Linked DNA regions of Homo sapiens: all the other regions are linked to region 1. The links come from fine-mapping of genetic effects on gene expression. A gene starts in region 1. Each other region holds a variant in brackets. All regions are shown on one strand. Distances are from middle to middle. Region 1 holds the start of TMEM132D (transmembrane protein 132D). Region 2 has its middle 57 kb from the start of PIWIL1. Region 3 overlaps GLT1D1 (glycosyltransferase 1 domain containing 1).

What was found.
Region 2: its variant is fine-mapped to the expression of TMEM132D in prostate (GTEx, PIP 0.95).
Region 3: its variant is fine-mapped to the expression of TMEM132D in whole blood (GTEx, PIP 0.94).

What each region holds. Positions count from the first base shown.
Region 1 is chr12:129,900,552-129,908,731 of GRCh38, reverse strand. It overlaps TMEM132D (transmembrane protein 132D), which reads left to right and starts at 4,707. Exons shown (of 9, transcript NM_133448.3): 1 at 4,707-5,471. The coding sequence starts at 5,393.
Region 2 is chr12:130,276,782-130,284,961 of GRCh38, reverse strand. No RefSeq gene overlaps it. Among named protein-coding and RNA genes, the nearest start is that of PIWIL1, 57 kb to the left of the region's middle. The variant A/G (reference allele first, on the strand shown) is at 3,467.
Region 3 is chr12:128,973,212-128,981,391 of GRCh38, reverse strand. All of the region lies in intron 11 of GLT1D1 (glycosyltransferase 1 domain containing 1), which reads right to left. Among named protein-coding and RNA genes, the nearest start is that of GLT1D1, 120 kb to the right of the region's middle. RefSeq lists an enhancer at 4,331-4,835. The variant G/T (reference allele first, on the strand shown) is at 4,371.

The sequences.
Region 1 (8,180 bases):
GATGATACTTGTTCTCTGCAATATTCTTTGAAGACCCTAAGAGATCGAATTCCAGCTCTCCAAGGGCATCCTTTGCCTTCTCCCTGGTGCCTGGTAGAGGGGACAGAGCACCTCATGCGTCCAAGAGATCGAATTCCAGCTCTCCAAGGGCATCCTTTGCCTTTTCCCTAGTTCCTGGTACAGGGGACAGAGCACCTCATGCATTCATTAGCTGGTGGTGGTTGGTGGTTCCTCCCTCCTTTGGACTCTCTTCATACTGTAAAATGGGCCAAAGCTTCGCTGTAGTCTCAGGAGCTGATAGAGGTGTTTCCTTATATCCCACTCCTGCTTCTGTTGGCAGTGATGAGATCAATACACCCTGTATTGCCTGGAATGGTTCATTCTAACAAACAAAGCCCTGAACCTCCATGACTTAACACCATGTCATCTTATTTCTTGCTCACCCAAAATTCCATGCAAAAGAAGTGGCATTCCACATTTTCGGAACCAGACTCATTCCAACTTGCAACTCTGCCATTGCTGAAGGCTTGGGGGTTCTCCCTTGAATTTTTGCATTCAGCTTGAAAAGGCAGGAAGAGAGTTTGAGGGTTTCACAGGCTCCCAAACTCTCCCCCTGAAAGGGAGGCACATCCCTTCCTCCCAGGTTCTTTTGGACATAACCATAGCGACAGTTAACCTTAGGAAGGCCAGGGCATGTGGTCTGGCTGTGTCTCCAGCAGGTAGAGGAAGCAGGGGTGAGGGAACATGCTTCTGTCACAGGTTCCAGTGCATGCAAAATCCAGGCAGTCTTTACAACAAAGGGTTTCCTGCAGAGGCAGCCTTGCAGCTTCTCCTTGACCTCACCCCTGACCGAGAAACACTCAGGGACTAATCAGGCTAGAGGTACAAATACATAATTTGTACCAAGAAGTCCAGCATGTGACTTCAAAGAAGACTATTCAAGGCCTGCTGACCTTTCTGTATTGATCCATAAATCAGTAACTTAAGGAAAATGCAGCAGTATCCTATTGGTCTTTGCAGAAGAGGCTGCTCTGCGAGGTTCACCTGGCAGTTACCTGGTGACACCATGGGTCACCTGGGAGAGCACGAATATTCCAACTTTTTAACATCTGCTTGTGGAGCTCTGGGAAGAGATGAGAAAGGGAGAAGGACAGAGAGAGGAGAGTAAAAGTAGGTCTGGATTTTAGTATGGTTAACCTGGAAGAACCAAGAAGTTTGATGATTTAACACAATAAAAATTAATTTCTTTTACCATACTTCTTAATGTGGATTGACGGGGGACTTTGCTCTCTCATCAACTTGCTGGACTGCTGGCTGGAAGGCTCACCTTGTAGCAGCTGCACCATCTCAAACACAGGGTCCACTCTTCTCCCAGGGCAGGGCAGGTGCAGAATGAGGAGTCACAGGTGAGCTTTTCACTGCCCCACCAGAGAAATGACCCCCATGACTTCTGCTCACATTTAGTTGGTCAACTGCAAGGGGCTGAGAAGAGTAGTCATCCATGCGCTGGGAAGGAGAGAGTGACAGGTCTTGGCAAACACACACCTTCCTCAAGGGCACAGCATGGATTCCGCTGAGGTGCTCCTTCTGGAAGGATGATCTCCTGCTGGCCTTACCAGGAAGGGTGTGCAATGTTCCCAGTGTTTACAGTGCCCTCAACATCAGAAGGCTTTCCCCACTAGTGAAAGAGACAGTTGATTGAACCAGGCCTTTCTATTTCCCAGTCATTTCATGAATTTTGGAAAACTGGGAAGACAGGGAGTTTCAAAAAGTCTCTTCTGCATCTTCAGGAGGGATTGATCTGGTAGCTCTCACTTCATGCTAAGGTTTCCCAAACTTCATTTCTCACCATCTTCCGGAGTATTGTCATAGAGAGAAGACGGTGCCTGCACCCGTGTCAGTAGTGATTGCTAAATCCATTACTCATTTCCCATCTTCATAAACATACATAACTTGATATTTTTTAAACAAAATGCATCACCAAGTAAAAGGAGAGAAAACAAAAATAATAATAATCAAAATAAAAACAAATCGATGTTAGTAACTTGAGCTAGATGTTGTCATTGTGCAGAAAGAGCTTCCTTTTTTGTTTAAAAAACATGGACATTTGCAATTACTAAAAGGCTGTTCCGGAGTAGCTCAGGCCTGAGCCTTTCTCCTGGATGCAGTCAGAAGGACTGGAAGAGAATGGCTTCAGTTTTACAGGAGGCCCCATCTTTAGAGGGCCTGAAAGTGTCCTCTCATCCACCAGTGGCATAGCCCCTGCAGTACTTGAATTCCAGCTCCTTTCTGCCTTTATCAACGCTCAAAGTTGCCATTTCTCAAAAACTGCTACAGGGAATGTTTTTGTTTTATTGAAAAATAACAACAAAAACTGCTTAGTGTAAAAGCCTCATCCACACAGCATGAACAATTAGTGCAATTTAATTACCGACAAAATTAGGCTTACAGCTTGATTTATGGCCCCGCAGATGAAACACATATTCTTGGAGGAAAGCAGATTTCTTACAAGTAACTTGAGAGAGACAAGGCAGGCGATTTTGATGGGAAGTTGTCCTGGGGCAGGGGCTGGAGTTAGGGACCTATGAGCCCTCAGTGTCCATCTCCAAGTCTAAGTTTTGCTTCCCCACAATTAGCTGTGTTAATTACCCAAAGAAGATTAGATGTACCAGGGAGAATGGCATACTGGAGAGAGAAAAAGTAAGAAGCCATTCTTGCATCTTATTTTAGCCACTGATTAGGTATCTGAAGTTGCATCTTCCCAAAAAATCTTCCATACCAAAGAGTGGAAAAAACTTTTGTTTCGCCAACTACGCATAATGAAGAAACCGTTTAACATTTTAGGCAGCAGCTGGAACTTGACAGTCACCTTTTGTCTTCACATTACAGATAGAGAAACCTTCTGCAATGGCAAAAAGAAAAGTTATTTGATGATTGCAATTCAGGGGAAAAACTCAATTTGATTTAGAGAAACATAAAATGATTGTTTTTAATAAAGAACAGGGACCACTTGTTTCTAGTCAATATGTCTGAGAAATGTCTTACAAATAGACTCAGTGTCACAAATAGATGATTTACAAATAGACTCAGACCCACTGTAGCGTTAAGGATGGAACCTGGATTATGCATTCAGTGCGGGCATCAATTTTGACACTCAGAGACCAGGTGAAGGTGTCCAAGAGACGAAAGCTCAGCTCTCTCATCACTCAGGTGAAGGAGAAAGGGGACCAGTGGTTCCAGCACGTGTTCCGCAGGCCGGCAGCATCAGCATCACCTGGAACTTTTTAGGAACGGAGATCGGAAGTCCCACCTTGACCTGCCGAGATAGCTCTGGGGTGGGCCCAGCAACCCAGGTCTAACAAATTTTCCAGTGACTCTCCTGCTGGTTCAAACTTCAGAAACAGTGAAAGAGACAATCTCTTAGGGTCTTTGCAGCGTCGACTCTTAGGAATTTTACAGGAGAGCAATACAAAGAGAAAAGGCAACAAGTTTAAGAAACAAACAAAAGAAAAAACAGAAAGACAGATATATTCAGATAAGTAGATACAGAATAAAAGACAAGAGCACATCTCAAAGGACATGAACCCAGAAAAACAATCTTCGGTAGAACAGCAGTGGCTTTTTTGATCTTCCTTGAAACTTTGAAAGCTAAAAACTCTTAAAGCATTGGTATATTTCTGCAACTACAGGCATACAGGATAAAAAAGTCCATTGCCCCCTCAGTCAGATGATAACGACCCATTTTTATCTACTGAGGTGAATTCACCTCATTAGATTCAGGGCTTGTTGGTTTACAATATTCCTTAAAAATTCTGAATGCTTTTCTTCCCTCTGAGCTTTGATGGGGTTAATTTAAAGGCTCTCGTGGAGCAAAGCAGTTCTTGGGCTACAAATTACAGGACGGTGCTTAGGGATCTTGGTGTGGGAATGTCTTAGTTGGAGATTCCGGGCGGTGTTGAGAATCATGTCTTTTATCTTCTCAAAGCAATGTTGTCTCCTAATGGATCCATTTCCTTTCCCAGTGAGCCCTGGGGAGCACACGACATGTTTCTAGGGACACTAACTTGGGGGATCGCTCTGGGAAGGGGCTTGGGGCCAGCATGACCTCAGTGTGGCGTGTCAGAGACTTCCTCACTGCGATCCCTGGGAGATGCGCAGGGCGGGGCGAGGGCCCTTCTCCAGCCATCCTTGCGCTCTCCCTGGCGAAGAGCCTCAGGTGCCCCCGGGCTGGAGGACCTCCCCTGGGCCTGAGGTTTTGATGACGACGAGAGGCCGGTGGCCAGCTGGACACCTGTTGGGAGAGTGGGTGGCTCCGTCCCCGGGGTGCGCCCGCGCTGGGAGCCCTCGCCCGCCGCCACCGCGCGTCCGCGCTCGCAGGGAGGGTGGCCGGGAGGCTGGGCGTGGGGCGGCCAGGGGGAGGTGGGATTTACTTTGCGGATTGGGGCTCACAGCTGTCACTCCGAAAGGGTGGGGCTTTTTAAAAGCAGACAAATTTTTAAGGCGAAAGCCCCAGCCGGCTCCGGGCACCGTGGCGATCGCCTCCGTTCCGTTCCGGATGCGGTCCTTGCGGAGCGGAGCCCCCGCGCCTGCTGGCAGGAGGCAGCTGCGTTGCTCGGCCGCGTCCCCGAGCCGGCGGGCCCTCCTCCGCGCACATCTGGCCCGCCTCCCCCGGGCGCAGGGGGGAGCCCCGCGTCTCCGGAGCCTGCAGTGCGCTCGGCGCGCGTAGAGCCCCGCGAGCCCCAGCCGGGCCCGGGGCCGGGCGGGCCGAGGCGGCGGCCGGGGAGCAGCCGCACCCGCCAAACTTTGGGTGCCGGAGCGCGCGCGCGCCCGAGCCCCGAGGCGCAGCGGCCGGCCTGGGATGGGGGCTGCGGGCCAGGGAGCCCCGGGCCGCCCAGCGAGCCCGGCCACCCGCCCGGGGGGCTCCGAGCCGCCTCTGCCCGCGTCCCGGGCTCCGCAGCCCCGCCACCCCGGCGCCGCCTGCGCCAGCGCCCGCTAGCCAGCCCGGGAGCAGCTGGAGCCGCCGGAGCCCTGCGCCTGGAGGCGCCCCTCCTTGGGCCACCGGGGGCCACTCTTCGCTCGGGTAAACAGGAAAGGAAATACCCCCTGTGGATTAAAATTTAAAAAAAATTCTGTTGGGGTCGAAGGAGGGAGGTGGGGTTTGCCTGCGCGCGTGTTGGACTCCGGAGAGCAACTCAGGAGCCCGCGCGGTCGTCGCCTCCCGGCCTGGCCATGGACTGGCGGGAAGAGGGAGCAGGGCGCCCGGGCTGCTCGGGCCCCTAGCCGGGCGCTCCCTCGCCACCGGCCCCGCTGCGGGCCTCTAGGGGACTGAGACGGTCTCTTGTTCGCCTGGACGGCGCCGGGGAGCGGAGGATCTGCGCTCCGGGTCTCCAGGATGTGCCCGTCTGAGATGGGGACGCTGTGGCACCACTGGTCGCCGGTACTCATCAGCCTGGCCGCCCTGTTTTCCAAAGGTGAGGACGCCGCGGCCGCCAGGGCCCGGGGACTAACTTCGCCTGGAGTGAGTGTGTGGGAGTGTGTGGAGGATGGGGGCGGCCGGGAGAGAGGGCTCGTGTGCAAGTGTGTGTGCGCGCTTGTGTGCATGTGTGTGTGCGCGCGTGTGAACGTGCGCTCGTGCGGCAGCCAAGCTCCTCGGACGCCCCTTGGCCGAAGGTGCTTGTCCTGGAGCACTTGGGTGGGAGGCCTTAGGTGAGACTACTAAGGAGCCGAAAGGAAAGGAAGGCTGTTTCCTGAAAGCCTTTTCTGTAAAGGGAGAGGGCGTGGGGACCCTTGAGAGGAAAGGTGGCCTCTGGAGGGCCGAGCCGGCTGTCGGGGGAGGAGGGGATTGAGATGACCAGGGAGATTTCTGGAATTTGGGATTGACTTTCCCTGGTGGCACTGACCTATTTGGAAATAATTTTGGAGCACTCCTGTTGTATGGGAATACTATTTTGTGTATTATAGGCTGCCAAAAATATAGCCTGGGGGGCGGCTCTGAAGAAGGGGGATGGGTTTCTCCAGGTCTGCCGCTGTGAGGTTTGGGCACAGGGTCTGGCGCTCACCCTTCCGTAGGGTGCTGGGAGCAGCAGCGGCCCCGCAGGGTGCACGTGGAGTTTCAGCTACAAGTTGTGACCCGAATTTTCCCAGCGGAGCCCTGACTTGAAGCCATGTGTCAAGGCAGGAATTCCTCAATGTTTCCTCTTCTCTTCTGCCAGCATCCCTGTCTGTCATGGGAAGAGCAAGTTTGGAAGCTCTGGACAGTCATTCTTCCTTGAAGAGAAATGGTGTGATTTGTGCGGGAGATTCTTTCTCATGATTGACCTGGGCTGCTTGTGTGTGGTTCCCCCACCCGTGCCCCTTTCCTGCAGATAGATACACTGGGAGGAGAGTGAAGCGTCTCAGCAGTCTCTAATACGTGCTGCAAGAACCCTGTACCCATATTTTTCTGCAAAGATTTTTGAGATGAGATCTCTCTCAGAAACTTCAAAGCCAATTATCACGCACAAAGTCTTTTAATTACATGAATTGTCTGTTCTCTGAGTTCTTCCAGAATCACTGAGGTTATGTTGCTTTGGATCTGATAATAGATGAAGACAGTTGAAATGCCGAGTTCTGTGATGGTTCGATTTAGAAAGAGGAATTTACGTTCCCCCTCCTTCCCTGTCTTTGAAGTGTGGTTGAAATGGGCTCACGTTTCCTAATTATGAGTTAGAACAATCCCTGGGATCAGAGCCTTCTGGATTTATAATGTGCACAGGAAACCAAAGAAAAGGTTGATGAATTCAGTGAACCTGACTCAGGCAGACGTGAGGTTAAAAAAACCAAAATCCACAGCAACAACAGCCCAGCATTTTTTTTTTGGGGCGGGGGGGGTTGGTTCTCACTTGGTTTTATAATAGGTCCAGACTTCTTTGTGTTTATGCTGCAATAACAAGGTTGTATTAAGAAAGGTACAGAATAGCTTTGGAAATAGGACCTCACTATTGTGTTTTTTCACTTAGGTACATAGGTCTGTTACTGATTTCTTTATTAGACTGAGCAGTGTTGAAGAGAATTGTATTTAGCCTAATACTTGTGAACTTTTTCAACTGGGAACACTGAACATGTCCTTAAATGAGGTCCTGTGTGATGTGGAAGCCTCTTTACTAGGTGGCCAAAAATTAGCACGTAAAATGTTTACGATAAGCCTAGCATATGACATATTTTGTGTATTGAACTTAAGCAAGTCAGCCAGACAGTTCAAAAGTGAATCAGTTCTGTGTGGAGACTTTGTACAGCAATTAGCAGAGTCTGAGCACATGGTAGATGATTCAGGATTAGTCACAATATGTCAAAGAACAAGAAAAAAATCAACACCCCTATTAGCAAATTGCATAAAATGGAATTTCATGATGCAGATGTGATTTATACATTCAGGGACAGGGCCATTCTTTTCCCAATGTGTTCATATCACCTCCCTCTAAGATTCTCTGATCACTTGAAAGTTCTCACCCATCTTGCAATCAAGTATGGACTATATTGAAAAGGATTTTAATTGAAAGTAAACACACAGACACACACACATACACACATACCCCAAAGTGCCTCATTTGTCTGGGGCTGATTGAAAAAGAATATTATCAAGTATTAAATATCTGTTTCCACATATTATCATTTCTACTGTATTGTCTTTCCAAATAGGAATTTTTGAATGAAACAAAGGGCAGATTTTAATACCAGGTTAATATGCTTGAGCCTTACACGTTTATATTTCATAAGCAGAAAATGATTAGTTATAGAACAAACCCACCCTCTTGTAGATATTTTTTAAAAACAAATAAACATAAAGTTTTGTTGCTTGTATTTCTATGCCCCTGGGACCTAGGAAGTATGGTATGACACACGGAGTTTCCCCAGCAGCCTTGTCCTATGGCCCCTAATTTTTCTGGGGAATGGCCTTAAATGTTTAAGGTCTAGCTTTGCTGGCAGCTTGATGTAGTTTGCAATGGTGCTAGCCTGCAGATGAGCTTTAATGCATTACTGTGAACTTTATGGGAGGGGGCAGGTGTATGGAGGGTGGGCTGAGAGGAAAAATGGGTGAGGAGATTGGAGTTGGGCAGAGGGCAAGGTGATTTTTAAATACAAAGTCAAGAGGGTTGCCACATTTAGGTTGCTTGTTACAGTCCTCACGTGCATCCTTCCCA
Region 2 (8,180 bases), 380 kb before region 1:
ACTGAGATATAGGACATTTCCAGCATCCAGAAGTCTCCCCTGAGCCCACCCCGCAGGGGAATCACAAATCCGACCCCGAGACCCTGAGTTCGTTTTGCCTGTTCTCCAATGTCACATAGGTGGAATCGAATACTCTGTGCTCCTTTGAGTCTTCTCCAGGACTGCCTGCTAGGTTCATACACATTGTTGCTTGTATTAGCAGCCCAGTCTTTTAAATAAAGGAAATATTAAAACTTAAAATGAGGAAGACTAACAGAATTCTGATTCTCCCAGTGGTGTCTACTTGGGTGCTGTACTCATCTGTTTTCATGCTGCTGATAAGGACATACTTGAGACTGGGCAATTTACCAAAGAAAAATATTTAATGGACTTATAGTTCCACGTGGCTGGGGAGGCCTCACAATCATGGCGGAAGGCAAGGAGGGGCAAGTCATGTCTTACGTGGACGGTGGCAGGCAAAGAGAGAGCTTGTGCGGGGAAACTCCAGTGTTCAAAACCAAAAGAGAGAGCTTGTGCGGGGAAACTCCAGTTTTCAAAACCATCAGATCTCGTGAGACTTGTTCACTGTCACAAGAACAGCATGGGAAAGACCCGCCCCCATGACTCAATTACCTCCTGCTGGGTTCCTCCCATGATATGTGGGAATTGTGGGAGCTACAATTCAGAATGAGATTTGGGTGGGGACACAGCCAAACTATATCAGGTGCCTTTTTTCAATGTCAAATTTTTTCTTTTCAAATAAATGTATGCATTTGTTGGCACCCCAAGCCTGTGTTTTCTCTGCCTTCAGAGAGGGAGACCTGTCTCCAAAGCCCGCCGGAGTCCAGGATGGTAAACCACAGATGTGGAGTGAATGTCATTCAGATAATGCATGGATCTTTGACTTTTCTGGTTTTTCATCTTTGTTTATGTCAGTGGTTCTCCACTGGGGTCCATTTCTTTTCCCAGGGACAACTGGCAATATCCGGAGATATTACTGGCTGTTACATCTTGGGAGGGTTCCACGGGCATCTCATGGGTAGAGACCAGGTTTGCTCATAGCATGCCACAGAATACAGGAGTGCCCCCACAGCACACAGGAGCCCCCCCACAGCAAAGAATTATGATGCAAAATGTTAGAATGGTGCAAAATGTTGAGAAACCTGGCTTATGCCTTTTATCCATCTCTAATGGATCTCTTTGAACCTCTATCTCTTTGAGCTTGATGTGCACCGAAGTCTGGCTCAAGCCCTGGTCTACCCTGGAAAGCCTCCTCTGAAGGCCGATTGGTGGCTCTTAGCCCCTCCCAATGGGTGAGACAATAAGACCCTTATCATTTACCATGGCCAAGATGCTAAATCAGTAGTTCTCAACCTTTGATGTTCATTAGAACCACCAGGAAGGGGCCCCAGCATCTGAGATTGGTAAAAGTTCTCTAGGTGACTCTAGCGAGGCTGAGGTCAAAAACCAAATCTCTGGCCCTTGCTACTCTAGGCATGGTTGAAAGTGTGGCAGCCCCGTCACCTTGTTCCAAATGCAGAATCTCATCCCCCAACCCGTGCACGCACTTTTGGAACCAGAATCTGCATTTTGACTCCCATGCCCGTCAGACATGGGAAACTCCACGCTGGATGATGTAGCCCTGCCTCTCTCCAGCCTCACCCTCAGCCCTCTTCCAGCCTATTCCCAGCCTCAGCCATCCTCCCTGGGGCTTCAGTGCCATCTTCCCAGAGGTGCTGCCATATCACCCCCACCCGCCCCTCCCACCTCATTGCTCTGTTTGCTCCATAGCTCATGTCACTGTCTGAAATTACACTTTTTTTCTGGGTTTTTTTTTTTTTTTTGAGATGGTGTCTCCCTCTGTCACCCAGGCTGAAGTGCAGTGGTGTGATCTCGGCTCACTGCAACCTCCGCCTCCCAGGTTCAAGTCATTCTTCTGCCTCAGCCTCCTGAGTAGCTGGGACCACAGGCACCTGCCACCGCACTCAGCTAATTTTTGTATCTTTAAGTAGAGACAGGGTTTCACCATGTTGGCCAGGCTGGTCTCAAACTCCTGACCTCAAGTGATCTGCCCGCCTCGGCCTCCCAGAGTGCTGCGATTACAGATGAGAGCCCCCGCGCCCGGCCTGAAATTACATTTTTATTTGTTTGCGTGTTTGCTTTCTGTCCTCCATCTCCTCCCAGGTAGCCTTCACTATGGCAGAGACTTTGCTTGTCTTAGGAATTATATTCCTAGCATGAAGAATAATTTTGCTGTTTAATTTCTGAATAAATGCTGCTGCAACTCTTTGACATTTAACGATTAATATTCTTTTCTTCTTATAGACCTCGTCTCCCCAACTTGATTAGGATCTTAACTCCAGGAAACATCTTTCTATTGATGGGCGTTGCTCTTGAGTGCCTGGCCTGGAGGCTTCCTGTAGGCAGTAGATACACAATAAGTACGTATGGATGGTGAGCAAGATTTTGTTGATTCAGGTCATTTTTTAAATAGTAAATACATTCAACGACCAATCTTCCACGGTGAGGGAGAGCGTGTGCTGTGACTGAAAGCCACATGTCACCACCAGTCCCATTTGAATACTGATCGTCAGCGCTGTGAACTAAAGCAGAACTAATACTTTTACCTTTCACTCTTCTCCTGACCCCATTTGCCAAGATAAAGATGGAAAGACCCCGGCATTGTCCAGTGGGAGGGAAAAATCAAGCTCCGCAGAACTTTTCTAAATTGGATTAGCATCTCCTGCCGTATGCGCTTATTTATTCAGGGAATTTCCAAGTCAGTGTTGCAGACATGAATGTGGCAGGGGATTGCACGCTTTCAGGATGAAAGTATTTGGGCTTCCTAAGTGCGTCGACGAGAAGAGACCAGTTACCTCACGTTTCTTCTTATTTTATCTTTAGCCTCTAAACATAGCACACAGTAAATCGTCTTGGACATCTAGGGATCCCTTTCTTCAGATGATTATAAAGACTCAGCTGAAATTGTCGTTATCCTTATTTCACGGGGAGGAAAACAGAACTGTTAAGCTCTGCCTCTTGCTGCTGATCAGCCAACTGAAGCCAGGTGGCGGGTGTGGCCCAGGAGGCACGACGACTCCACGGTTCTCCAGCTATGTGGCCATCCCCAAGAATCACACGGTTTCCAGACACTTAAGCGTGTGTTCCATTCCCCACCTTACAGCCCATCTCTCATCTCATCAACGCTTGGAGGAAACAAGGAAAAAATCGGTGCAGGAAGTCCAGAGAAGGAATCTCAACTTTTCACTCTTTGCTCAAGCCCCGGATTACGTCTCTGAACAGCCTGAGCCTTAAACAAGGGTTTAAAACAGCAGAAAGACAGATGGTAAATGCAACCCCGCCCGTTAGGTGCTATTCGAAACACAGATGGTAAATGCAACCCCGCCCGTTAGGTGCTATTCGAAACAAAAACGCCGGGGGTGGGAGGTCTGCCTAGGAAAAAGCCATCCAGGGTGGTGTCCGTTCA[A/G]GGAGCCCCTCCAGAGGGAAGAAAGGGGTGAGAAACTCTGTGAAAAGTGTTTGGGGGTGGGGGGATGAAGAGGCCTTAAAAGGAAGCTGAGCGCTTTGCTGCCTGGCGGTGGCGGTGCGCAGCGGCTCCCCCTGCCGGGGAGTCGATGAATAGCGCTGCAGCGTCAAGCTGGGCCCAGGCTCGGGGGCTGGCAGGCCAGGCTGAGGCAGTGCGCGCGGGGCTCAGCCATTCTAAACGCAAACGAAGGGGGACCCTTTCCACCCAGGCCCAAAGCGGGAGGATTAGAACAGGGAGTTCAAAGCTCTAAAATGGCTTGTTCGTTCTTTCTTTTTTCCTCCCCACCCTCCCCTTTATTTTTTAAAGGGGCCAGAAATATGGCTGGTTATTATCCCAAGTGATTGCTACAAAGAATTTCGAAATTAAAAGATAAGCACGCCGAGGAAGCTCAGTAATTTTCATAAAAGGGGACTTAAAACAGATGTGCCCTCTTTAATCGAAGCATGCTTGAAAAAATAGGAATGCATTTTTAACATAGCAGGGGGAAAATCACATGGCTTCGCATTTGTCCCCTGAGAGTTGCTGTGTGTGGATATCTGTGGGCACGGGGAGATGGTACTAACGCGCTAGGGCAGCCGCAAATGGCGGGTGAACGTGCTTTCATCTTCCTGGCCCTGGGGTAAATGACCAGCCTCTGTGCTCCAGACCTTTTGCTAACTAGATAATTTATTTATTTATTTTTTTAATTTCTTAAACAATCTGCCATCCAAAATGTGACGATGGCATACAAGCAACAGACCATTATTTGCAAGGAAACCCAGATTTTGTCAACAACGTAACCCTTTTCTTCCTCTTTGCAGGAGACGGTTTTTCCGTGTTTTCTTTTTGACAATTTGCACAAAGCAAATTCACTCTTAAACAAGGCTGGTTTGTTTTTATTTCAGGTTGTTGACATGTCAGCCATTCAGCTTTAGCCCCAATTCGTCCGTTCACCAGATGAGGGTAGCTGTGTGTCAATTCTTACCAAAACAGGAGTGTCACGTCTACTCATTTCCTGCATGGTGAGAAGGAAATGAAAGTGCTCGGTCTGAGATTCCCTGAGAAGAGAAACCAAAGACCGTCAGACCAACAACAGTGCTTTTAACCAGTGAAAGAGGCAAACATTGAAGCATATTTAGGAGTAGCAGGGCACTAAAGCCAGCAGTTGCTTGATTCTCTGTTGCCGTTTAGCTGAGCGTGTGTCCCACACTCCCTAGCGGCTTCCCAAGTGATGCAGAGACTATTGGTGGATACTTTTGGTTGTTGTTACTTTAAATGTTTCCTTTTTATTTTCCATAAAAACGATTTAGCTCATCTTTCTCACTGAAAGTAGGCAAATAAAACCCCAACTCCATGCCTTGGCTATAGTAGATAATAAATATCAGCTGACTTTTATTGCTTGAATACTTTTAGAATTATTTCTTTTCTTTTTTTTTTTTTTTTTTTTTGAGATGGAGTGTTGCTCTGTCGCCCAGGCTGGAGCTGGAGTGCAGTGGCACAATCTCTGCTCACTGCAACCTCCACCTTCCAGGTTCAAGCAATTCTGTCTCAGACTCCCAGGAGGCTAGGACGACAGGTGCGTGCCACCATGCCCACCTAATTTCTGTGTTTTTAGTAGAGACCGGGTTTCACCATGTTGGCCAGGCTGGCCTGGAACTCCTGACCTCAGGTGATCCACCTGCCTCAGCCTCCCAAAGTGCTGGGATTACAGGCATGAGCCACCCCGCCCAGCCTCTTTTCCTCTTTTAACTTGGAAATTAGGCTTTTCAAATCCATTTCCACCAGACCTCATAATGAGACATTTTACAATCTCGGGTTTGTGGAGACTTTCTTTGAATCACCTCCTTTCTTCACCTCTTCATCCACACTTCACCTAAAACTGAGCTAAAGAAACAGCAATGGTCAAAGGGAACATAACCTTACCTGGGATGCTTCAGGTCTGTGTTTATTTTGGTTTTACAAGCATTAATTTATTCTCTGGGCATCTAAATTTTTCTATTTTTTATTTTAACATGTAAGTAATTATCCTTAAATAGATACTACATTGACAAGATAGCAAATTTAAAACGTAACAATTTCACCCCAGAACAGTAACAGCTTATGGACTGCCATTCTCATCAGTGGCTAGGCCTACTTCTGGAGATTATTTTCGTCCATATAAGAAGATATGTCTGGGCTGGGCATGGTGGCTCACGCCTGTAATCCCACCACTTTGGGAGGCTGAGGCAGGCGGATCATTTGAGGTCAGGAGTTTGAGACCAGCCTGGCCAACATGGTGAAACCGTGTCTCTCCTAAAAATACAAAAATTAGCCAGGTATGGTGGCACATGCCTGTAATCCCAGCTACCTGAGAGGCTGAGGCAGGAGAATCGCTTGAACCCGGGAGGTGGAGGTTGCAGCGAGCCGAGATCATACCACTGCACTCCAGCCTGGGTGACAGAGTAAGACTCTGTCTTAAAAAAAATAAAAAAGAAGAAGAAGATATGTCTGTCTGTCTGTATATACCATTTAAAAAATTCCTCCAATAGTGGCACACTCTACCACATAAACCTTCACCCTAATTTTGCTCTGCATTAAAAAACTTTTATTTCTATAGGTTATTGGGGAACAGGTGGTATTTGGTTATACAAGTAAGTTCTTTAGTGATTTGTGAGATCTTGGTGTACCCATCACCCAAGCAATATACACTGAATCTGATTTGTAGTGTTTTATCCCTCACTACATTTTTTATCATGCCACACTCTGAAATTATAATTTTTAGGAATTGTTTTGAACATGTAAAAAATATTGCATAGGTGACAGAGGAATTAATGCTCATTGTAAAAAACGTGAACAATATACAGGGTATAAACCCTGGAGGCCTCCCTGCTCTCTCCCTTCCATCCCCACAGCAGGTCTTCTTCCCAAGCGGCTGGTGGTCAACACCCTGCTGTTTATCCATATCCCCCCCTGCGCCTTTTCCTCTCCATTTACTTGGATTTGTGTAAATGTGTCCATAGAGAGCAATCGTCTGTGATTTTTATTTTCTTATGTAATGATTTGTTCTATGGATCATTTCTTGGTGGCGCAGGTGGATCTCACTCCATCTTTTTGCTTAACTTTTATTTTAGGTTCAGGTTGCTAGGCCTCTTTCTGGAGATTAGTGTACGGGTTTGTTATAGAGGTAAACTGATGTCACAGGGTATTGTACGGATTATTTCATCACCCAGAGACTAAGCATAGTACCCTACCCAGTAGTTATTTTTTCTGTTCCTCTCCCTACTCCTACCCTTCACCCTCAGGTAGGCCCTGGTGTCTATTGTTCCCCTCTTTGTGTCCATGAGTTTTCATCATTTAGCTCCCACTTATAAATGAGAACATGTGGTATTTGGTTTTCTGTTCCTGCATGAGTTTGCTTAGGTTAATGGCCTCCAGCTCCATTAATGTTCCTGCAAAGGACATGACCTCATTCTTTTTTATGGCAGCATAGTATTCCATGGTGTATATGCACTGCGTTTTCTCTATCCAGTCTACTGTTGATGGGCATTTAGGTTGATTCCATGTCTTTGCCATTGTGAATCTCACTCCATCTTCCTAATGCCCCAGTGTATTTAGCTATGGGAGATTGTTCTGTTTGGGGACTTGCAAACCAGCATCTAACATTCCCAAGGCAATTACCAAGAGTCACCTGAGTCCAGCTCCTTCCTAATCATGGTTTGTATGTGTATATGTTTGATCATTCCTGTTTAATTCATAGTTAACCAAAATGGTTATTCAGTTCATCTACAATGAAGTAGCAAAAGAGAGCTAGGCATTTCTCTTGGTATTAAGAGTGAATCATTATAGTTGCCATTTATTAAGCAATTATGATGTTCTGGGATTTTTAGCTACATTCTCTTGGTTCCTCACCATAAACCTTCATGATAATATTAATGTCCACATTTTATAGAGGTGGGGGCTGATATGAGGAGTGATTAAGTAGCTATCCTGTGTTGACCCAGCTGGTGACCGGACTTGAGTTCAGGCACCTCTGACATTCCAGTCCAGGCTTTCTTCACCATTATCCAGTGACTCTTAAAATTTTCAGGAAAGAATGTTACTCAATGTCCTTGGGTCGAGTCTTTAGTATTTTAACTCTCACAGTTGAAACACATCTCTTTTTTTGAAAGTTTTTCCTGATATGTAACGTAAGGCTCCCTGCATCCAGCTGAACTCTTCTCAGCAGGGAGAAGGATCAGCTGAGCGTACGACATCATCACAGCCATCACTGTCCATCACGACACCGAGTGTCTTGTACATTCCCTTATCTGCTATGTGGCATACTTGGACTTAACTGCAATTTGACGAACTTCCAGACAGAAGCTGGTCCCGACGGCTAACACTTGCAGTCTACCGAAAATGAGAAGAGGCCCCTCCAGTGTTTTGGGTGGGAGAGGTGCTCACGGAACCCAGGCCACAGCGTTATCCTGGGATGCCTGGCGAGCGGCTAGGAGGAAGTTAAAGTGGCAAACCACGTGCAAGGCAGCACCAGAGAGTGGATGACCAAGAGGCTGGATTTGGGGGCTGGATTCCTGGGCTGTATTTGGGCAAAGGACTTCCAGTCTCTAAGCTGTTTCTCTTACTGCCTTGGAGGTAGTAGAAGGAATTTATGAAGCAGCCAGGTATAGTGAGCTTTTACATATTAAGAAGTTCATCAATA
Region 3 (8,180 bases), 930 kb after region 1:
TCTTTGATTTATCTGACGTGGAGACTTTGGTGGAAACCCAACCCCCTCCTTCCCCGCTCTGCTTACTATTCCTACAGAATGCATGGCCCTTTTACAACCAAATCCTCAATAAAAGAGTTTCTAGGAACAGATTGTGATAAAACACACTCTTCTTTTCTCTCCGCATGGAAAAGTGAACGAAAAAACATAGACTTAAATAAAGCAAGAGAGAGGGGGGTTATGAGTAAGCAACGTCTTGGCTGCTGGCTTAAAACCCTGGATGAGTGGCAGAAAGAAAGGAAAGGAAAACCATTAGCAAAAGCAAAAATCTCTCTTGAATCCTAAGTCACTCCCTGAGGCTCTGGGATTTTCTTCTGGACTAAAAGCTCCTGTGTGGCTGCATCGGGAATCTGCTGGACACGCGCCTGTAGACGTGAGAAATCCATGTGGACACAGACTGTCGTGTGCTTACCAGCGAAGATGGTTTGCAAAGATGGCCACACCCTCTATCCCTGTATGCACATCTCTTTGCGATATGACACTGCCACTGTCCCCGTTGAGTGGGTGTGGTCTATTCCCCACCCCGCCCCCGATGAATCTGACTTGTTCGGGTAATTTGCTTTGACTGACAGGATATATCGGAAGTGATGCCGTCTGCCTTCCACACAAAGCTTCAAAAGCCCTTATAGCTTCCATGCGCCCCGGCCCTGGAGACCACCAGGTAAAGCAAAGCCTGGGCTAGTCTCCTGGGGGAAGGGAGGCCATGTGAACAGGGACACTGAGCAGTGACCAACACCATGAGTGAGGCCGTCTCGGAACATCCAGCTCCAGGCCAGCCGCCAGAAGACTCTTGCTGGACCAGTGGCCCCAGGCCACTCACCAGATCAGCAGAAGCACCACCCCGCGAATCCAGCTCAAACTGCAGACTCGGAAAACTGCAAACAAATCAAATGGCGGTAGTTGTAAGGCACTGACTTTTGGGATTCTTAGTTACACAGTGATGTATAACTGACACTCTTGCCAGGCACTCAGCTCCTCCTCTTCAACAAGAGAACCGTGAATGTTTGAAGTTCTACCCCTTTACAACATGGTCTGGGAAGAAGACCCTGTCTCCACTTCCAAAAGTTGGTCCTGATTTGTCCGAGCCTGTTGTGGGGTCGCAGACACACCCTGGGCTGACCCCAGCCACCCCCACCTGTGACGTGAGTGTGGGTGGACTTGCCTCCAACCAACAGAATATGGCAAAGGTCCCGGGATGTGGCTCCCTCGACAGGGTGGTGTCACACAGGACTTCATCTCAGCAAAGCAGAGCAGGGGACACCCTATGTTGCCAGGCCGTGGGGCAAGAAACCACAAACAGTCCCGACTTATGATGGTTCAGCTTAAGGTTTTTCAGTTTTTCAATGGTGTGAGAGTGAGATGCATTTGGTAGAAACTGTACTTCAGGCACCCATACAACCGTTCTATTTTTACTCTCAGTACAGTAGTTGATAAATTATATGAGATATGCAAAACCGTACTGTAATACAGTCTTTGTGTTGGATGACAGCCCAACTATAGGTTAGTGTAAGTGTTCTGAGCACTGATGAGGTAGGCTGGGCTAAGCCGGGATGCTCCGGAGGTTGGTGTATTAAGTGCATTTTCTCATCTTTTTTTTTTTGAGACAGAGTCTCGCAGTGTTACCCAGGCTGGAGTAGAGTGGTGCAACCACAGCTCACTGCAGCCTCAGCCTCCTGGGCTCAAGAGATCCTCCCACCTCAGCCTCCCAAGTAGCTGGAAATATAGGCACATGCCCCTTATCTGGCTAATTTTTGTATTTTTTCTGGAGACGGGGTTTCACTGTGTTGCCCAGGCTGTTAAGTGCATTTTCAGCTTCCAGTGGGTTTATTGAGATGTAGCCCATCACACATCCAGGGGCATCTGTCCTGGCAGCTTCTAAGAGCTGAGGGTGGCCCCTGGCCAACAACCAGCGAGAGAACAATGGCCTTAGTCCCACAGTCACAAGAAACTGAACCCCGCCACCAACCGTGCCCTAGAGGAGAATGTGGCCCAGCCACCGAGAGGGACTGGTGGGACATGAGGCCCCAAGCCGAGGACCCACCTGGGCTGTGCCCAGAGCCTGGACCTGTAGAAACTGCCAGACAGCAGGCAGGTGTGGCTTCAAGCTGCTGAGTTTGTGGTGATTTGTTACATGCAGTAGAGAATGAACACTGTTACCCTGTTCTCCCCTGCCAACGTTTGACCCAAGTCTGGCCACTGAGATTGTCAGAGGCGTTTGAACCAGAGGAACTCCATCTTGAATAGCAGCTGGGTAAACTGAGGCTGAGACCTGCTGGGCTGCATTCCCAGGAGGCTAAGGCATTCTAAGTCACAGGATGAGATAGGAGGTCGGCACAAGACACAGGTCACAGAGACCTTGCTGATGAAACAGTTTGCAGTAAAGCAGCCAGCGGAAACCCACCAAAACCAAGAGGACGATGAGCATGACCTCCGGTTGTCCTCACTGCTACACTCCCGCCAGCCCCATGACAGTTTACAAATGCTATGGCAACGTCAGGAAATTGCCCTATATGGTCTAAACAGGGGAGACATGAATAATCCACCCCTTGTTTAGCATATCATCAAGAAATACCATAAAAATGGGCAAACAGCGGCCCTCACGGTGCTCTGTCTACGGAGTAGCCATTCTTCTACTCCCTCACTTTCCTAATAAACTCGCTTTCACTTTACGGACTCACCCTGAATTCTTCCTTGCGACAGATCCAAGAACCCTCTCTTGGGGTCTGGATCGGGACCCCTTTCCCGTAACAAGATGGGAGGGAGAGATCAGCAGTCAGTGTCTTCTGGAAAAAGTGGTTTCCTCCTTCTAAGAAGAGAACACTAGGAACGACTGCCCCCTCCAGCCTCTGAGGCCACCCAGGTCGCATGGGGAGCCCGGATCCACTGCAGCAATTCCCACCGACCTCAGGACGATGCCGCACACAGGAAGGCAGGGCCAGACACTCACACGGAGGAGGAGAGCCGTGCCCGCCCTGACATGCCATGCCGGACATCAGCCATGGCTCTGGAATCTGACACCGGGCACCTTATCAAATGCACTGGAGAGCTACACAGCAGGACTTGCAGACCTGAGTGTCCCTGAGGCAGATCCTTCCAGCCCAGGTGCTGCAGGTTTCACACAGGTTTCAGCTGGGAGCTGCGGAAAAGCCGATTGGCTGACAGCCACACACACGCACTGTAACCCCGGAGGAGGGGGTGTCCACTCAGGATCTTCTGCTTGGCTATGCAGTGATCTACTCTTGAAAATTATTTATGAAAATAACTCACAGGCCGGGTGCGGGGACTCATGCCTGTAAACCCAGCATTTTGGGAGGCTGAAGTGGGCAGATTACCTGAGGTCAGGAGTTCCAGACCAACCTGGCCAACATGGTTAAACCCTGTCTCTACCAAAAATACAAAAAAATTAGCTAGTCATGGTGGCACACACCTGTAATCCCAGCTACTCAGGAGGCTGAGGTAGGAGGATCGCTTGAACCTGAGAGGCAGAGGTTGCAGTGAGCTGAGATAGCGCCATTCATTGCACCCCAGCCTGGGCGACAAGAGTGAAACTCTGTTTCAAAAAAAAAAAAAAAAGAAAAAAGAAAAAAGAAAAGAACTCACAAGGCATTATAGAGGGCAGACGCTAAAAACTCAAAGCAAAACCAAGTACAGAAATTCCATCTCTCAAGAGAGTTTAAAACAAGCCTCACCTGTTCCTGATCAGCGGTGGGAAACGCAAATGCCTTCCGGGGCCCAGCAGGTGAAGTGGGAGGTGCACACAGCCACATGGTAAATACAGGCCTATGCTGGTTGCCGCATTTCTTTTCTTTTCCAAGAGAGGTCTAAATTCTGGATATTTATGTAAAAGTGTTCCATGTTAAATATCAACAGGTAATTCAATATTTTAAGAATACAGCAAAGTAAACAAAACACATGTGCAGACCAGATGTAGGTCCAGGGCCACAGGTGTGCCAACGCTGGCTCAGGTAATGCACTTGTGATGTTAAATAATAATAATAATCATGCAAAAGAGCATGGTTTTGTCTTTAGAGAGTAATTACTCAATTAGTTGATGACCGTCCTCAGAGCTTCTTCCTTTCTGAGGAGTCTGGAGCTGCTGGTGGAGCATTTCTCATTGAATCCTTTTGACCTGCTCCATCCCCCTGAGGTTTCACCAAGATCCAGAGGAAAAGAAGTGGTGGCCATTTTGTTTTCTTGTTTTGCTTTTGAGATGGAGTCTCTCTCTGTCGCCCAGGCTGGAGTGCAGCGGCGCGATCTCGGCTCACTGCAACCTCTGCCTCCCGGGGTCAAGCGATTCACCTGCCTCAGCCTCCCAAGCAGCTGGGATTACA[G/T]GCTTGTGCCACCACGCCCGACTAATTTTTGTTTTTTCAGTAGAGACAGGGTTTTGCCATGTTGGCTAGGCTGGTCTTGAACTCCTGGCCTCAAGTGATCCACCTTCATTGGTCTCCCAAAGTGCTGGGATTACAGGTGTGAGCCACTGCGCCCAGCCAGTACCCATTTTATAAAATGAATATTAGAACCTCATTACAATCCTTCTCATGATGATGTCACCTCAAAGCCATAGAACAGAAGGGGAAAAAAACTCCTCCACGAGAAGCAAAAGCCTTGAGCAGGATGCATGCTGGGGCTGGCAGATTTAAAACGTTACGGTTTTAAAGAGCATTACATTCTGACAACCTTCAGCAAGTGATATATACTTATTTTTCCAAGATGAGCTACAGTCAATCACAGGAAAACTCTTGAATTTCAGGCTTGGTGTGTTAAACTAAACAGCCCCGAAGCTCCTCTCCCGCTGCTTCAAATACGACAGCTTGTCGATGGGAGACGTTGACGAGGAAGTGTCTCAAGGCTGGCGCAGGCCGCCGTCGTTAAAGATCTCGGGTTTTCCTCGGGCTTTTCTGGTTGGAGGCTTTGAGTTAATTAAGGCTTCGACGGTGGCTTTGCTTCTCAAACCTTGCTGTAAGACTCTCTAAGGGAGCTTGTAAAACACACACGCCCCACATACCCGCCCTCAGTCCCCGAGATACTGATTGGGTGGGTGGAGGGTGGGGTTCAGGAATGAGCGTTTTCTAACAGTGTCCAACAGCGCCCCCAGGGGATTGCAGGAAGCCTGACAGGTCTAAGGCAACCTGCCGTGCCTGCCTCATTTTCCAAAAATTATTTGGTCATGGGACAGATTTATTTTGTTGAAAACTGCAAGTTGTGAGGCTCCTCCTTCAAGACCTCAATGCCTAGAAGAGGAACGTGCATCTGACTGTGGTACTTTTCTTGTACACGGCACCATCCCTCTGGTCACATTTTATGGCACTATCCAAACTGTCAAACTGTCGCCGCTGACGACACATCAATGTGACCATGTCATCACCCCGACTGCCAGCGTACGTTGATTGTTCTCCCAGTAGCTCCTGCATCGGGTAAAGTCAGGACCATGCAAAAGAACACGAAGCTCTTCTCTAAACTCTTCAGCATGAACCTTCCACCCACCTCTTAAAACACAGAGTAGTCATTGATTTATAGGAGAATTGAAGTTATTTCACCCTGAACATCATGGTTACAGTTAGGGGCTCACTTTAAAATAAGTATCAAAAACAGCCATTAGGGGGCCGGGAGCTGTGGCTCACACATGTAATCTCTGCACTTTGGGAGCCCAAGGCGGGTGGATCACTTGAGGTCAGGAGTTCAAGCCCAGCCTGGCCAACATGGTGAAACCCTGTCTCTACTAAAAAACACAAAAATCAGCCTGGCGTGGTGGCACGCGCCTGTAGTCCCAGCTACTCCAGAGGCTGAGGCAGGATGATTGCTTGAACCAGGGACCTGGAGGTTGCAGTGAGCTGAGATAGCGCCACTGCACTCCAGCTTGGGTGACAGAGTGAGACCCCGTCTCAAAAGAAAAAAATAAAAAACAAAAAAACAGCTATGGGAATCTTCTGCAGATGGAAACTGAGCAAGCCAACTGGGTAGGGTCAGAAATAACCTCTCAGTCAATGAGCCCTGTGCATAGCAATTACTCAATACAGAGCCAGAGGACAAGGTGGTAGGGTGGGGACTCTGACCCCTACTCACGATGCTTGACTTCCCCCCGCCCCCAGTCATGATGCCTGAGTCTGACGTCCATTCCAAGACTGACCCCCAGTGAATCTGCCAGTGGGCCCTGTGTAAGCACGCTGAGCCAGGGAGGCTCCGTGCTCAGACCCTTTGCCGGGACAATGCCTGAGCGTGTATCTAACAGGCCACCCACAGACATGGTGGGTGCTCAGGAGTGACGGAGCGTGGGAGTCTGTAGCATGAGGAAGGAGGTTTGCAGGTGCAGGTGCGGGGGGGCACTAAACAAAGGAAAGCCAGCAGGTGAGAAAGCTAATTCCCATCCGATTCATCTTCACTGCTGGTGGAGGGGAGAACAGCCTCAATGAGGGGCAAATGCTTCTTTCTTCAACACTTCTTTAGCGAAGAGAGAGCTGGCCTCTGGCCAAGGGCCTCCAGTGGAGGTCAGGATCCAGCCAGAAATTAACAACAGCAGCCAACATGCATCCAGTGCTCAAAAACGTACACGGAATGAGGCTTCAGAATTCAGGACCTGGGGGATTTTAGTAATTCAGCTGCTATAGCCTTCTATTACATATCATCTCCAGCGAGGTCTAAGGCCATGCCCATCAACAACAGATCAGTGTTTCTTAATCAAAATGTATGAATAGTCCCGTGACGCAGGACAAACAGCCCTAGGTGACTTCACATCAGTTCAGACAGGAGTTTTGGCACCAAACTCACGAAAAAGAGTGGTCTTATGGATGGTGAGACAGTAAAACTCCTCTTTCCCTTCTGGCGTTTGCACAGCAGAGGTCGATTGTGCTGGTCAAAGGACAGCTGTTATTTGAGGAGGGAAAACAGTGCAAGACCTGGGTAGCTAACAGCAGGGTCACTGACCGTCGGAGAACCTGTGTTTTATTCCTGCCATTCCCGGGGCTCTGTGGCTCATGAAATGCACGATGCAGGGTTAGTGTGGCTCAAAGGCATTGCTGTGGCTGGGGTAGGAGGGAGCAAGAGCCCTTGCCATCTGTGAGCCGGGTGGGTCCGTAGATGTCCGTGTGAACAAGGACTCCGGCCATCAGCCAGGTACCTGCTAGTAAAAACGCACAGAGCTGGCAGGTGGGTCCCGACTGCATGTTTTCCAAGCGCTTTTTGGATTTTGAAATTGCAGAAAAGGAACTAGGAATTTGGACTATTCCTATGCGCCCTCTCCCCCTCCACACGCACAGATCAAGAGATGGGAGCCCAGGTCACCTGGGAACCTGCCTGAGGTTAACACATCACTGAGTGGCAGAAAAGGCATCTAGACCCAGACTGTCCCCCTCTGAGCACCGCTGCTGCATGTGGTGTGGAGCACAGATCACCAAGCGCCCCCCCCACACACACACACCCTACACACACACACACACCCCCTACACACACCCCCTACACACACACCCCCTACACACACACACGGGAAACCTGGGAGCCACCGATGAAGCTAAAAACAACTTCAGGAATATTTTCTGTGCTTCTCATTCGCTCACTTTCCAGACGATGGGCCGAGTAGAACACTAGCCATTTCAACACACACCCGGCTGGCTGAAAGGTGCTTCTGCTGCTCTGGTGTGCTTTGGGGGTTGGTGGGGAGAAGGTGGGCATCTTGAAGGAAAGAAGAAGGTGAGAGGCAGAAAAGGGAGGGAAGAGGGGGACCGGGAGACCTTCCTCTGGGCTTGTGTGACGGCTTGGCGGGTTAGAGCAGGAGGAAGTTGGAGGGAAAGAGCAGCCCATTAAAGTGCGGCGGTAAATCTGCCATTCGTTCTGGTTATGCCTGGGGGAGAGGAAAGAAACACAAGCAGGCTGGGGTGGTGGCTCACGCTTGTCATCCCAACACTCTGGGAGGCCGAGGTGGGTGGATCACTTGAGGTCAGGAGTTCAAGACCAGCCTGGCCAACACAGTGAAACCCCGTCTCTACAAAAATACAAAAAAAAAAAAAAAAATAGCCAGGTGTGGTGGCACATGCCTGTAATCCCAGCTACTGGGGAGGCTGAGGCAGGAGAATTGCTTGAACCCAGGAGGCGGAGGTTACAATGAGCCAATATCGTGTCACTGGACTCCAGCCCGGGCAACAGAGCGA